Linked DNA regions of Homo sapiens: region 1 is linked to region 2. The links come from fine-mapping of genetic effects on gene expression. Tissue or cell type: whole blood. Region 2 holds a variant in brackets; the other region holds the start of a gene. All regions are shown on one strand. Distances are between the middles of the regions.

What was found. PIP is the estimated chance that this variant, and not a neighbour inherited with it, causes the effect.
Region 1: it holds the start of CRIM1, and the variant in region 2 is fine-mapped to the expression of CRIM1 in whole blood (INTERVAL, PIP 0.90).

The regions. Positions count from the first base shown.
Region 1 is chr2:36,351,691-36,359,798 of GRCh38, reverse strand. It overlaps CRIM1 (cysteine rich transmembrane BMP regulator 1), which reads right to left and starts at 4,021. Exons shown (of 17, transcript NM_016441.3): 1 at 3,176-4,021. The coding sequence starts at 3,506. CRIM1-DT (CRIM1 divergent transcript) reads left to right here and starts at 4,229. Exons shown (of 2, transcript NR_037631.1): 1 at 4,229-4,711; 2 at 4,818-5,050.
Region 2 is chr2:36,603,342-36,611,449 of GRCh38, reverse strand. No RefSeq gene overlaps it. Among named protein-coding and RNA genes, the nearest start is that of FEZ2, 9.2 kb to the right of the region's middle. The variant C/T (reference allele first, on the strand shown) is at 4,560.

The DNA of each region.
Region 1 (8,108 bases), 250 kb after region 2:
TAGGTATCAGGCTCCATGCTCATTTTTTCAAATGCACTTACCACCCCCAGCCCCCACCACAAAAGGAATAATTCAATTAGAATTTATTTAATAACAATCTAAACAATGCGGAAAAGAAATCCAAGTGCACATCTCACATGGTGCACAGGACACAACTCATCACATTATTTAATCATTCAGAAAATATTTTTTTTCCTTCAGCATTCTTTCTATGGATAGGATTGTTCTTCCGTTTGTTCAATGTACTTTTACTGAGAGCCAACTAGACCAGCATGCCTTAAAAACCTAAGGCTGTGAGCCACAAGCTGAAAGGGGCCCATTTCTGCCCATGATTTATCTAACTCATTTTGTGAACTGCAGTTAAAAACGTAATTTTTTTCCCCTACAAAGCCAGTATGAGAGTAAACACTGCTAAAAATTACTGCAAGTTGGCAAACAGAGAATATAATTTGTATTTAAATTATGTCATCGAAAGCAGGGAGATTAGTCATGATAATATTTCTATAACATGCAATATGTTTTTACAACGTAGCCAATTAAATAAGTTTTCAAGAGTTTTCATTAACAGATACAACCAGTAGGGGTCATTTTAGTGCAAAAATTGCAGCAAAAGAGACTTCAACATGAATAAAATATATTGATTCCTATTCATGTTAGTTATGATAACCATGCTTCACCACGTGAATTTCTGAATAAAAATGGAAACTGAGGGAAACACTGGCCATTCCGAAATTTCTTGTAAACTCACAGAAAAACAAGAGATAATCAATACCTTCTAGGTAACTGCTGACATCTGAAGGCTCCTCTAATTCTTTTTTTAAAAATGGCAGGCGGGGGGCGGTTGGGGTATCACTTATCCCATGCTTTCCATAAATCTTGTCGTTAAGTGAAAACACTGAAATTGTAAACACACGATTGAAAATATCTGTCTAAATCCAACCATTATATCATGCCAGGTAACACTGTCCTTACTTTGGTTTCACAGATTTAGAATGCAAGTTGACTGCTGTTTTCAGTATTTTTTTTTTTAAAGGAAGTGCCCTGGACACACAATATTGATAGTTGAAAACAGGCCTGTAAAATAAAAAGTGTTTCTAGAGAAACTAATTGAGATATAATCATGTCAACAAACCCTTCCAAGCATTTCAAAGCGAATACCAAGCACACAGGGTGTTGCCAGAAAAAAGGAAGCTATGAGGGATCACATCATTTCAGAGGAATGAAAGGCTCACGAAACTGCCAAAATAACTCTATACTGTGACATGGGATATTGCTGCCACAACACTCGATTACTGTAAATGTTCCCTGAGCACTTCCTTCACCAGAAACAGACTAAGAAGAAACAAAACAAGGGTTAGAATCTTCAGAACCTGCAAAAGTCCTTCTTGGAACACAGCAGTTTCCACTGCATTTAACTGTGTTTCATGTCGCCTGTTCTTTTCAGATTTACGAGAGGCCGGATTAAGTTATACACTTGAAGCGGCAGGGTTCAAAGATGCATCTTTTAGTCTAGGTCATTCAGAATTCCCAAAGTCAAAACACATACAATGGTATCAGAAGTTAATCTCATGGCCATTTTTCTTGAGGTAAGGCATAAAAACAAGTTATAAAAGGGGACAATACCAGGTGAGAGGCTTTTTTGTACTTCAGGCAAATGATCTCTTCTAACCCAATGTCTTACGTGTGCAGCAAAGCAAGAGCAAGTCCCTCCCCTCTGAGAAGAGTTCCCTTCACTCATCACTGCCCACTAGCTTCCAAACCAGAAAACCCTCCCCTATTTTCCTGAACTGTCCAAACCCCAAACTATTCAGGTATAAATAAGTACCTATGTGTGTGTCTGTGCGTATTTAGAGAGAATCACAGCACTGAAGCCTTTTAATAGGTCCATTGTTATCCTTAAGGCTGTCACCTCCTTTTTCAGTATCCCAGCATACTAAACAAACACACACAAAGATGCTTCGGAATAAACCGTTCCCTGGACGGTGCTGGCTGTGAGTAGTGAGGAAGGCACGCCGGGCAGAGGGCGCCTGTCCCTCCTCGCCGCCTCCCCAGAAACGAGGCTGCTGCGTGCGCTCTGCTCACTCGCCAGGATGCCCCCGGAACAGCATCATCAGCCCAACGTCAGCCAGAGCAGGGATCCCACTTTTAACTGATGCTTACCGAACCGTGCCCCCGTTAGCCACATCAAAATAACTCACTGCCTCGCTCTAGACCCCAAACCAGACCAGGCACCCTGAAGGCCGACGCAAGCGGGCAGGGATTAAAGCCAACACGCACTAACATTGGCTCCCCAACGAGAAAGACTCCACTAATCTAATCTGTTTCTCCCACCGTCAATCTCGACACCGCGGAGCACAATGCGTGCTGGAGAAGCCAGCAGAACAATCCCCGCTGTCAAACAAACAAAAAGGAGGAACCGGCAACACGACAGGAAACACGCGGGTATCTGATATTAAAAAGCAGCCACTAATAGCAACAACTTTTTACTCCCAGGTGCAACCCCCACCCCCCTTTCCTTTCAGGAGAGAAAGCCTTTGACCGTTTACAATGGGCAAATAAATGAGTAACCACCGTGTGTAACTTCCCCTGGGCTGACATATTCCGCGGCTGAAACTGATTTATCTGCGGAGGAGGAGGAAGGGGTGAAGGAAGAGCTCAAGGAAAAAATAATAAGAGTCACTCGGGGAGTGCGAGCTGGAGACACGTCTCCTCCGCCAACAGAAAAAGGACTTTCGCGGCCGGCGTGCGGCTCACGGTGCCACACTGCGCCAGTGCGGGGAGGGCGGTAGGGCCGGGCTCCCCGAGGGGCTCGCGCGCGGCAGAATCTGCAGTGCCCCCCGCCCGCGGCGCCCCCACCTCGGGGAGCAAGGCCGGGCCACCCAGTCCCAGCAGGAACGGCCACACGTGTGCGCGTCTGCGCGGGGACAGGGGCGATCCTCCACTCGCTCGCCCCCACCCACCATACCCAACCTCGCCCGCGACTGCCTAAGCGTCGGGGGGAACAAGGAGAGGGAACGCAGGGCCGCGGGGGCACTCTCCTGGGGGCGGCGGCCGCCCCTCTTCCCGCAGAGCCCTCTTTCCTCCAGAAAGTCTCGCCCAAACTTTGTTCGGCACAACCAGCGCCGAGGGGGCGGCGCAGGCCAGGTGGGAGGGGGCCCGCAGCGGGCGGCCGTACCTTCGCAAACGCCCGCTTCGTACTCGGTGAGGGAGTCGCCATTGAGCGGGGGGCGGATGACACAACGCAGCCCCCGGTCGCAGGTTCCGTAAATCCCGAAGGTGCCGCCGCAGCTCTCGTTCCTCTGGCTGGCGCACGTGTAGCAGCAGCCGCAGACGCCCTGCACGATGCTCCCCGGGCAGTTCCTGGGCTCCTCGCACTTGGACTCGTCACAGGGCAGGCAGACCAGCGCCCGGGTGCCGGAGCGCGCCAGCAGCAGCAGCAGCCCCAGCAGCGAGACCAGGAGGTGCCCGCAGCCGGCCAACCCCCTGTCCCCCGCCACCAAGTACATCCTCCTGCGCCGCCGCCGCCTCCTCCTCGCAGCCGGGCCGGGAGCGGGGCGGGCGCCCTCCCCTGCGCGGGGCACACGCGCCGCCGCCGCCGCACCAGCAGCCCGCGGTCCTCACCGCCCCTCTCGGGGCCCCCGGGGCGCGCCTCCCCTCGCGGGGCGAGGCCCCCGCCCCTTCTGCGGGCCGCGCCGACCCCGAGCCCACGAGCCTTGGCGCCGGCGGCAGCTTCCCCTCCTCCTCCTCCTCCTCCTCCCGGGAGGGAGGGGGAAAAAAGAAAAAAGTTTCCTCCCGGCAGCTCCGGTTCAACCCAAACTTCTGGCGCGGCGGCGGCGGTGGCTGCTGCGCTCGGCTCCAGCCCGGGCCGGCGGCGCCTCCTCCCTCTCCTCCTCCGAGTCGGCCGGCCCCGCAGCGGCGCAGCCTCCGGGCCGGTCCCCGCCTCCCGAGCTGCCGAGTGGGCGCGGTGGCGCAGCACAAGATCCGCGGCGTCCGCTCCGCGCGCCCCGCTCGCCTCACTCCTGCGCCGCTCCTCCGGGCGCTTGTTTATGGCTGGAGCCTCAGCCGCTCGGGCTGCGCCCTCCCCCATCCTACCTCCTCCCCCAGACCTTCCCCCCACCCCCACGCGCCGCGCGCCGCTCATTGGCTGCCCCCCCTCCCCGGCCCGGCCGGCCCCCTCCGCCTCCCCCTCCCCCTCTCGGGCGGCCGGGCCCTTCCTCCCTCCCTCACACGCCTCCACCTCTTCCCGATCTCCTCCTCCCCGAGCCCGGCGCACCGAGCCGGCCGTGCCACCGAGCTGCGGCTCTGGCCCCGGCGCCGCGGGTGCGCTGCGGATGGGCTTGGGGCGCACCCAGCGAGCAGCGAGAGTCGCGGTGTCCCGGGCGCTCGCTGGCACCGTGGCCGCAGCGGCCGGCCTGGGAGCCAGGAGGGCGAGGCGGCTGCACCTTCGGGGCCAGATTGGAGTTCGAAGAGTGGCGGGTACCCCAGAAGCTCGGGGCCGGGGCGATGGCTGCAGCCTCGGGAGGGTATCGCCGGATCGAACTCCGGGAAAGGGAAGCAAAGGCATGGAACCTCCGCACACTGGATGAGAATCCATCTTCCATTCGAGCTGGGAATAGACTTTGTGAAAGATATTATGTAATGGAGTCTCGGGAACCCTGAGACCTCTCCAGCGAAGCTGAAGTGAATTAATTAAGTGCTTTAAACGGTCTTGGTAAATATTCCGCGGGAGCTGGGGAGGACCGTTGGGATGGCTGTAGCTTGAGTTGAATTTTAACTGTCCTCATTCTGGGTTTTGTCGCTCTGCTTTCTGTGCCAAGGTGCTGTGTTACGGGAGAGAGTGACTGGAAAGTAACAAAGCTGAATCTTTCTCCCTGGAGTAAGGCCGAAGACTGGATTACTACACGCCTAGACGTGACACTACACCCATAGATCTCATGCATCATTAATGCCATATGACATTGCCATTTTCTTTCTCAGTTCACGGACAAAAGTGGTGGGTTTTCATTGTCTTCACTGATTGTCAATGCATTAATAAAGAAGATGTGTGGTACATAGTCTTTGTGATAAATCAGGTAAAGAAGCAACGGAAGTGATGCAAAATGCACGGTGTGGAGATGGTTTCTCTTCAGTGGTTGTCAGAAAAGGTTTTCGTAATGATGGCTCTGTCATTGATGGGATATGAAGTAGTAATCCGCTCCGTAGTGACCTACCATTCACAAGATGGGTACCAGGTGAATAACATTAATTAATTGACAAAAAGTGACTGTGGTCAATGGGGGAAAAAATCGATCCCGTGGCAGGTGTGACGTGGGAATGGCTGGCCCACCCTCTGATCCAAGATGGTCTGGCTGCAGGAAGGTGGCAGCCAAGTGGATTCTGAAAATCGTGACTAATGAACCGAAAGTTAATAGCTGGCAGTGCAAGGAAAGAGGAAACAAAGCTACCTTTGAAATGTTATGTTTGTGGAACAAATTCATACTTACGATAAATATTTTAGTTTAACCACTCTGTCTAATCCTGAACCCAAAAGCCAGAGTTACCAGTGGACTATTCCCCCATGATGGGCATCAGCAAACTAAACATTTCTCCTATCATATTTCTTTGTCCAAGGAGAGGAAGAGGCTCATTAATTATCATTGATTATTATAGGGCCATGAGGAAGATGTTCAACCGTGGAAAAGGGGAGAGAGCATTGCATTTTCTAGACGGGTTTAAAGAGTTGTTGCAATGAAATGATTCCTGTAGTTGGGTGGGAAGTCCGATTAGATGATCTCCAAAGGCCCTCATACCCTGTGGGTCCATAATAAGTGTTAAGTGGCAAAATCGTTTAAAATATGCTAGGTTTTCTATTAGAAAAACCGAAGAGACTGGGCGTGGTGGCTCATGCCTATAATCCCAGCACTTTGGGAGGCCAAGGTGGGCAGATCACTTGAGGTAAGGAATTCGAGACCAGCCTGGCCAACATGGTGAAACATGGTGAAACCCTGTCTCTATCAAAAATACAAAAATTAGCCGGGTGTGGTAGCGCATGCCTGTAATCCCAGCTACTCAGGAGGCTGAGGCAGGAGAATCACTTGAACCCAGGAGGTGAAGGTTGCAGTGAGCCGAGATTGCGTCATTGCACTCCAGCCTGGGCGACAGAGCAAGACTCTGTCTCAAAAACAAACAAACAAAAAAACTGAAGAAAAATAAAACACACATTGTTAAACATTGTTCTTTCTTGTCACCGAACAAGGCACCAGCACTTCAGTGTGGGATTTGCCAACAAACTGTCATCATTGCTCTGTGTTAAAAGGTCCCTCCCACTCTTGCAGAGGAGGTTATCTGTATTTCTGTTCAAATGCAAGTATAAAGACATTAAAATGTAGCAGATAACATTGTAGGACCTGCAGGAAAAGCCAAGGTCAGGTGATGAGAAAAAGGCAGAAGTGAGAAAGCTACTGTGGTTAGGAAAGAAGGAGGTAATAAGCATTGTCAAAGTTTAGCTTCTATTTATTTTTAAGGGGATATATTAAGGATTAAGGAAAGCTACAGATGAGCACAGGCAAAGGATAATTTGGAGATGACTATTCATTGTTCCTGGGACTTCAGAAGTAGAACCACCTGGAAGGTAGATGGACAGATACAACATGAGAAAGGTTGACTTCTCACAGGAATTCAAGTCAGGTTTAGAAAGGACTAGGGAGATTCTTTAAGATGAAGATGATTGTATCAGCTCAAAAAGAAAAAAAAAATCAAGTTACATTACACATGCCCTTTGGCATAAAATTAATAGTCATAGAAGCAATAGAGAAAATAGGATTCCTTGAAGCCAGTGACTAGTGGCGAATGAGAAACCTGCAAGGTCCTGGCAGCTTTTCTGAAACCAGTGTGTGAATCAGGAGCTCAGTTATGAAACAGCTCTTTCTTCTCTGGGATCCAGGAGGGATGATAATGAGGTAGTGAGAAGCTGAGGCAATGATACTGAGGCTCGAATACAAAAGTATTTTCTTATCTTCAAAGACCAGACTATGGTTACAGAAAGAGTTTGGGTGAGCCCAACATGATGACAATCAGGTGTCACGGGTGAAAGTGGACTAGGAAGAATTACCCTGAAATTGAATGGACCCTGAAAGTCATGAACGAATGTTAAGAATTAGAGCCACACATGAAAGGCCTCCCTTTCTGAGAAGCCTTCTTGAGCTTCTTTATCTGTTCTACAGCATTTGTAAGTACCTCTGCTTGTAGCATTTATCATGTTACATTATAGTTATTTAAATAACTCTGAACCCAATTAGCTTGTCAGCTTATTGGAGAGGGCAGGATTTATAAAAATGCATGCATGAATGAGTTGAAAAAGGGAGAGTGAAGAATTACAGTCAAAATGATATTTGAATATTATTGTCTGCAGCCCTTCTCTCTTGGTTTTAGTAAATACCTCAAAATCAGTACTTGAAAGGGATGGTATGGGCAGGAGGGAGTCATCGAAGTTTGGGGTGGGGGTGGTGGGGGGGTGGGGGAGGGGTTGGGGAACAGGTCTGCAACGAACCAGGAATTACGAAGTATTTCTGATGGAGGTCTAGAAGAAGAGATCGTCTGCCCTCTATTGGCCATCCTGGGGATTAATAAATTGTTGAAAATGTCGAAAATCAAAGTGCCCATTTGTTGGCCTAAGCAGAAAGTGGAAATGAGAGGGCAATAGACAGAATGTTAGTATTAGACCCCGCCTTTCCGATACAGTGTCTAGTCCACCTATAGTCACACTCTGTATTTTCTCTTCCTGAAATGAAAAGAAAAATGTAGAAGTTGCCTTTGAGTTTGGCTCACATACTCTTGGAATTGAGTTGCACTTTGTATTTTCTCTTCCTGAAATGAAAAGAAGAATGTAGAAGTTGCCTTTGAGTTTGACTCACATACTCTTGGAATTGAGTTGCACAAGAGAAGAAACCTCATTGTGTTATGAAAACGTTGCATACATATTAGAAAGTGGTACGAATAAACCAGGGTAGCAGGTCTGGCCCGTTTTACCCTCTTAGGCCATCTCTCTGGTCTCCTCAGCTGGGATCACCTATATATGGGTTCTCACTTAATCTAGGCTTGGCACTGCAGTGATATAGACAGACCCTAGT
Region 2 (8,108 bases):
AGAGTTCTTTAGGCAAGAGTTTGCCTCAGTTTTTAACTTCCCATGTGTCTCCAAACTCCAGGGGACTTCAATCAGGATCTCCCAGGAACTCGCTCATGGTGTCCCACTCTGGGCTCACAGGGGCAGCAGTGTCCAGGTCCTTCATCTAAGTATCCAACCAGCTGGGGAGAAAGACACTGTTTATTGATCCTTCTTGCGAGATTGGCCCACACTCTGCTCCTCAGGAAGCCCTCACAATTGGCTTGAGTAGGAAGCACCCCAGGCCCTCCCTCCTAATCTGGCTGACAGTTCTGCATCTCAACGACTCGAATTCTTCTTTAGAATTTCTAGTTTTCTCACCTGTAGGTGGGTCATAGGGTAGGCAGAAAGCTCTGGTTCTGCTCTCACTAGTAAGTCACCCAGTTAACGGCCAGTTGCTGTTATTTCTAGGAGAGAGCAATATTCAAGACGACAAAGAAGCCAGAAGGAAGAACAGAATCATATCTGTCCCATCTCTGTGGAGACTCCCAGGAACCACTGGGATGACTATGGATGGTGTATCAGTCTGTGAGAGCTCCCATCACAAAATATCACAGACTGGACAGCTGAAGCAAAATAAATTCATGTCCTCACAGTTCCGGAGGCTAGAAGTCTAAGACGAAGGTGTCAGCTGGGTTGGTTTCTGCTGAGGCGTCTCTCCTCGGCCCGCACATGGTCGTCATCTCACTGTGTCCTCGCGTGGTCTCTCCTCTGTGTGAGTGCATCCATGCTGTTTTCTTATGTGTCCAAATTTCCTCTAGATACCAGTCAGACTGGATTAGGGCACACCCTTAACAAATTTTCTTTTCTCTCTTTTTTCTTTTTATTTTTAATTTGAGACAGTCTCACTCTGTCGCCCATGCCGGAGGGCAATGGTGTGATCTTGGCTCACTGCAACTTCCACCTCCTGGGTTCAAGTGATTCTCCTGCCTCAGCCTCGCGAGTAGCTGGGATTACAGGCTCAAGCCACCATGCCCAGCTAATATATATACATATACATATAATATTTTTAGTAGAGACAGCATTTCATCATGTTGGCCAGGCTGGTCTCAAACTCCTGACCTCAAGTGAGTGATCCGCCCGCCTCGGCCTCCCAAAGTGCAGGGATTATAGGGATTATAGGTGTGAGCCACTGTGTCTAGCCAAAAATTCTTCATTTTAACTCAATTACATCTATGAAGACTTTATCTCTAAATACAGTCATACTCTGAGGTGCTGGGGCTTACAGCTTCAACTATGGATTTTGAGGGGACACAGTTTAGCTCATAACAAAAGGAGAAGGCTGAGGCTGAGTTTAGCTGGCCCATCTGGGTAGATGCAGTCTGGAGAGCGCTTGCTGTCTCCCGTGCTCACTTACCCACAGACCTGCGTACATCAACAGCACAATGTAGGCACTTGGGGTACCAGGAGTCTTGCATTTCCATGGCTGGGGGTGAATGAGATACTGAAATTCAGGCACTGGTGGTAATTCAGTTCATCACAAATCCCAGTTTGGTGAGACTCACAGACATCCGGGGTATGCACTAATCCAGTTTTCCAAAGAGCAAATCAATCCTCCGGAGTTACAAAGTTACTGTCTCTGTCTTTGCAACATGGAATGAAACTAACATTTCTTTCTTTAAACAATAAGAACAAGGAATTAACAAATCTCCTATGCTAAACCCTTTAATACCAGATTAGAAACAACTAGCTTACTTTTATGTCTGCCCTAGTCAAATCAGGCAGAAAATTGAGCAATTACATGTCTGTTTGCTTAAATTATGTAAACAATTATCTTAATAGGCTACTTTGTTTTGTTTCTGTAGACCAACACCCATCTGACTTAAGTGGGATTTTTATTTAGCTACATAACATTTTGATTAAGCTATTTTGATGAGCAATATTGGTGCAGCTCTTTTGCTGTCAAGACATTTTGATCACACTTAAAAAGAGAAGAAAAAATCCTACTAAACTTACAGCTTAAAAAAATTAAAATGTTTAATGTAAAATAGACATCCTCACCTTTAGTCCCACTTCATCCCTACCTTGTTTACAATGAAGTTTTCCTTTTTTAAAGACAGGAAATTTTAATATGTTTGAATATAAAAACTTAGAGGAAAGAATACAAATGAAAAACAAAGACCTAAGAAAATAAAATTCCAAAGGAATAGGACAGTTTAACAGTCATCCTTTTTTTTTTTTTTTTTTTTTTTTTTTTTTGAGGTCAGTCTCGCTGTTGCCCAGACTGGAGTGCAGTGGTGTGATCTCTGCTCACTGCAACCTCTGCCTCCCGGGTTCAAATGATTCTTGTGCCTCAGCCTCCTGAGTAGCTGGGACTACAAGCATGAGCCATTATGCCCCGCTAATTTTTGTATTTTTAGTAGAGATGCGGTTTTGCCATGATTGACCAGGCTGGTCTCGAGCTCCAGGCCTCAAGTAATCCGCCTGCCTCGGTCTCCCAAAGTGCTGGATTACCGGCATGAGCTACTGCGCCTGGCCTAATGCTCATTCTTATACTACCCTTAGTGCAAATTTTGGCAGACTCATCTGGCTGATTTTGTGGAATATTGCTGGATAGTATGGTTCCCTTGCCCCAACACTTGAAACTAAGGAAAATTTGGGACAAGTACTCTTATAAGAAATTTATATTAATAAGTATGCCAGAAAATAAAACATAACGCTACCCAAATATAATTCAAGTCTCCTTGTTTCTTTTCAGCTGCAAATGCCTCTGAATTGTCTATGTCAATTTCTCTCTATAAACCTGTTGGTGCCTCTTTTGATGCCACCTAGTCTCCAGATGTGCCCTGTTACTCTATTACGGTGTCACCTACTGACAGTCACTGTGCTCATTGTAACTTTTTTCTGCTTTTTTTCTCACTGGTTTTCCCCCAATTCAGTGGGAAGTGGACTTATTCCTGTTTTCTTGAAGGTTCACAGCTTTTTCTCTTTTCTTCATCTTTTTTTTTTTTCTTTCCTGTACGGGCCAGAGAAAGATTTCCCATTTCCACTGATTTTTTTCTTCTTCTCAAATTAGTGCCTCAAATGCCTCCCTGAAAACTCAAGTCCACCAATGACAATAGTCTATTTTATTAATTTTGTATTACTTTCCAGTGAAGTTAATTTATATAACTGTAGTATAAAATACAGATTTCATCAAGAGGCAAAATAGGAGGGATGGTAAACAAATTATAATGTCAGATAAACAACTACTGCCAATGGTTGTTTCCATTTATTTTTAAGACACCAGCATTTGATTACTCAGAACACAAGCAGGCATGCACTTGGCAGTTTTCCCTACCCAGCTATTGAGGTGCCTTGTAAGGGTGCAGCCGTGGCCAGTCACCTTGGTTCCTTCTCTTGGAGCCTACTACTGCTTCTTCTCAAGGTGGTTTTGCCTGATCAGGACGCTGGCTTAATCATTAAAATGGAAGGTATGGCTGTTCACTGAAGATTTATCTCTATCGAACTTGAATGAACTGGAATGAAATATTCATTAATAAATTCTAGATTGTGGTCTTTGTCTCCTCAACAGTTTCTTGATTTTTGTGTTTTAAGAGACAGGGTCTTGCTTTGTCACCCAGGCTGAAGTGTAGTGGTGCCATCATAGCTCATTGTAATGAACTCCTGGGCTCAAGTGATCCTCCTGCCTCAGCCTCCCAAGTAATTTGGACTACAGGCACATGCCACTGTGTCTGGTTAATTTGATTTTTTTTTCTTACTGGAGAAAAAGTGAAGAGAAGCTGCTCTTTCCTTTTTGGCAAGCAAGCAACCTTTCCTTAAATTATTGGGTCACCATATAGATTTTTAAATTATTTTTACTTTTGTGTCATCAGCTGTTTTTTTTCTTCTAGTTATAAATGATATCAGCAATTACCTTAGATCTTCTCAATAAACTTTCATTTACATACATTCTCATTATTTTACTGTTGCTTTATAATGCCTCTGGCCTTTGCTAAATATGATACTTTAACAACCAGATATTTTTTGGTTTTCTATTCAACAGTGTCTTTTGCAGTTCTTATATTTTCTGACTGATTATACTTTTAGGTAGTGCTATGGTTTGAACGTGTCCCCTAAAGTTTATGTGTTGGAAACTTCATCCCCAATGCAACAGTTTTGAGAGATGGGACCTTTGAGAGGTGTTTGGATCACGGGGACAATGCCCTCATCAATGAATTAATAGCATTATCCCAGAAGTGGGTTAGTTATGGCAGAAGCAGATTTCTGATAAATGGATCAGTCTGACTTTCCTTCTCTCCCTGCTCTCTCACACTCTCTTGCCCTTCCACCTTCTGCCTTGAGATGACACAACATGAAAGCTCTCACCGGATGTCAGCACCATAATCTTGGACTTCCTCACCTCCAGAACTGTGAGAAATCAATTTCTTTATAAATTACTCAGTCTGTGGTATTCTGTTATAGCAACACAAAATGGGCCAAGACAGGTGACCTATATGTTGAATAACTTATTTTTAAATTTTTTGTCATATAAACTTCCACTCTGATATATATGCGCAAAATTTATGTACATTGTCAAACCAGAAAAGTAACCTTTTAAA[C/T]CTTAAATGATTAATATGCATATAATGCTCAAGTGCTATGAAGCTCTCTTTAAAAGTTCTTCTATATTCTCTTTCTAATTTTGAATCAAGGGCTGAAAATTAATTCAATAGGCTAGCTTTTCTTAATATATCAAGTGAGCAAGCATGTTTACACATGTTCATTTTCTTATGGCCTTCAGGAGTTGGTAGGAAATAAAAGGTCCAAAATAAATAGATTTTCGCGGACAAATTAGTAGAAGTAGGTTATGTGAGATATAACAAAGTGAAAGAACCTCTTCTTAATTGGAAGCTTTTGGGTATTGATGGACTGATCAAAACAGGTGAGGCTGGCAAGAAGCCTGTGGTTTTTCTAGATTTGTGGCAGTGTAGGAAGCTAGAATTTGGCTGATGGGTATGAGAGTTGCTGGGAAATGAGCTAAGCTTGCTGTCAGGAATTATTAAGAGAAGGGGTTTACAAAACAGTAACTTGGAGCCGGATTCTCTTAAAGAAGTCTGGGCCCAGTACCAAAGGAACTAAAGGAAAAGGCGGGGATAAGGGAATGGGGCCACGACCTGAGTGGAACATGGTCTCTCCTCCTGTAGGATGATCTGGAAGGCTGTGGAGCAACCTGAAGTCCCCAGATAAACATGGGAAGGAGAGATGTGTGGTAGGCACTGCAGAGAAACATTGCTACTTTATAATTTTATCTGGTTACAAACATTTAAACGGTTTAAATTTACAAGTATTTAAACAGTTTTCTGCTGTTACGTGTTTATGTTTACAGTTAACTATTTAAAATCTACCAAAGCACCAATTAACAATTTATTCCACTCTACAGTTTCTTTCTAATCTAATTGCTCTGTCCCTATGAAGTGGCAAAACTATAGAGAAATATAGTGTTTTCTCACAGACATATCTATTTGGAGCATTCTTATGGATAGCGTTGAGTGCCAAGGTTACCATGAGTGTGCAAACATAAGTTGACCAAGAAAAGTGATTTTCATCTTGTTTTCCCAAAGGGATATTCAAAATGCATAGGGTAATATCAAGTAATTTATATTTAATTAAAAGTAAAAAGCATCCTGTGTAAGAAATTTGACTAAAATAAAATTGTAATACCATTGGAGCTAAACCAGTGGCAATTTATTTAAGAACATCTGGAAATTTTGACAGTGCTACATTTGGGTTCTAAGAGCAATCATTTTCACTCATATGTGGACACATTATAACAGGTAAATGGAAATATGAGTCAAGAAAAATAAATGAATTTTATCTTAGCCATGTACATAATTTAGAGAGTCTGCATCAACTAGATAGTTTCCTCATAACTTTGTGTCTGTAGTCAAACACCTGGAGAAAAATAGCTCTTTGATACTTTGGAGCATCACTTTTGAGTAATGTTCAGATAGCTGAGTCAGAATGTTTTCTCATCAATCCAAAAGCTATTGTTCACTGTTGACTAATTAGTTCTAGCTCTTGGCTAACTGGGGATCAACATCCACTCCCTTTATGGTTTCAAAGGAAATAGGGAACAACATTTCTTTTAATTAAACAGTATCTTAGGGTTAATCACAGAACTATTTCATTTGATATGGGACAAATCACTAAAGTAAAACACAACATTTATTGGACTAGTAAACAAGAAAATGTTGGTATTAACATGTATTCATGAAAATGTGTTTCCATGCTGCCAAGAGATGGACAAAGCATATTGGGAAAAATTTATTCTCTATTACTAACTTCAGATTTATTTTTCAAACTATGAGCTCATCTTTCATCACCTAACCAGCTCCACCTTCTAAGTGAAGTATTTGATCATGCCAGTCCAGAGATGTCACTCTTCTCAACTCCTGAGCATTCGTTGCCTCTACACATTCGTATTTCCTTATGATAATATTTACTTTTTCCTCCCTTTAAAAAAATATTTTTTTGGCCAGGTACGGTGGCTTACGCCTGTAATCCCAGCACTTTGGGAGGCTGAGGCAGGCGGATCACGAGGTCAGGAGATCGAGACCATCCTGGCTAACGCGGTGAAACCCCGTCTCCAGTAAAAATACAAGAAATTAGCCGGGCGTGGTGGCGGGCGCCTGTAGTCTCAGCTACTTGGGAGGCTGAGATTATAGGCGTGTGCCATCATGTTTGGCTAGTTTCATGCGCGTCCGTGTGAAGAGACCACCAAACAGGCTTTGTGTGAGCAACACGGCTGTTTATTTCACCTGGATGCAGGTGGGCTGAGTCCGAAAAGAGAGTCAGCAAAGGGAGATGGATTATCATTAGTTCTTATAGGTTTTGGGTCAGGCGGTGAAGTTAAGAGCAATGTTTTGCGGGCAGGGGTGGATCTCACAAAGTACATTCTCAAGGGTGGGGAGAATTACAAAGAACCTTCTTAAGGGTGGGGGAGATTACAAAGTACATTGATCAGTTAGGGTGGGGCAGGAACAAATCACAATGGCGGAATGTCATCAGTTAAGGCTATTTTTACTTCTTTTGTGGATCTTCAGTTACTTCGGGCCATCTGGGTGTATACGTGCAAGTCACAGGGGATGCGATGGCTTGGCTTGGGCTCAGAGGCCTGACATTCCTGCCTTCTTATATTAATAAGAAAAATAAAACAAAATAGTGTTGAAGTGTTGGGGCAGCGAAAATTTTGGGGGGGTGGTATGGAGAGAGAATGGGCGATGTTTCTCAGGGCTGCTTCAAGTGGGATTAGGGGTGGCGTGGGAACCTAGAGTGGGAGAGATTAAGCTGAAGGGAGGTCTTGTGGTAAGGGGTGGTATTGTGGGGATGTAAGAAGAAACATTTGTCATATAGAATGATTGGTGATGGGCTGGATACGGTTTTGTATGAATTGAGAAACTAAATGGAATAAGAGAAGGAGAAAAACAGGTATAAAAGGTCTAAGAATTGGGAGGGCCTAGGACATCTGATTAGAGAGTGCCTAAGGAGATTCAGCATAGTCCTGCCAGCAAAGATTATTTATTTACTTCAAGAGTTTAGAGTGGCAGTTTGGGGATAGCACCAGGAGATATCAGCTGTGATGGCTTGGAGAAACAGCGTAAACCGGCAGTGTAAACAAGAGCAGGGCATGTATGAGTAGTTGAGAACGGTGAATAGGAGTATGACTAGACAAAAGATAGTACGGATGACAAGTTTTTTTGGGGCACAGTCTAAGTTGGTCTGGTGTCGAATGAGACTGGGGCCTAATAAAAAGGAGTGTCTATACAGGAGCTTAAATGGGCTGTGCCCTGTAGCATTTTGAGGACAGGTCTGACTTCTGAGAAGCGAAAGTGGTAAAAGTATTGTCCAGTCCTTTTTAAGTTGGTGGCTGAGCTTGGTGAGGTGTGTTTTTAAAAGACCTTTTGTCCATTCTAATTTTCTTGAAGACAGAGGACCATAAGGGATATAAAGATTTCACTGAATACTAAGAGCCTGAAAAACTGCTTGGCTAATTTGACTAATAAAGGCTAGTCTGTTATCAGACTGTATAGAGGTGGGAAGGCTAAACTGAGGAATTATGTCTGACAGAAGGGAAGAAATGACTGTGGTGTCCTTCTCAGACCCTGTAGGAA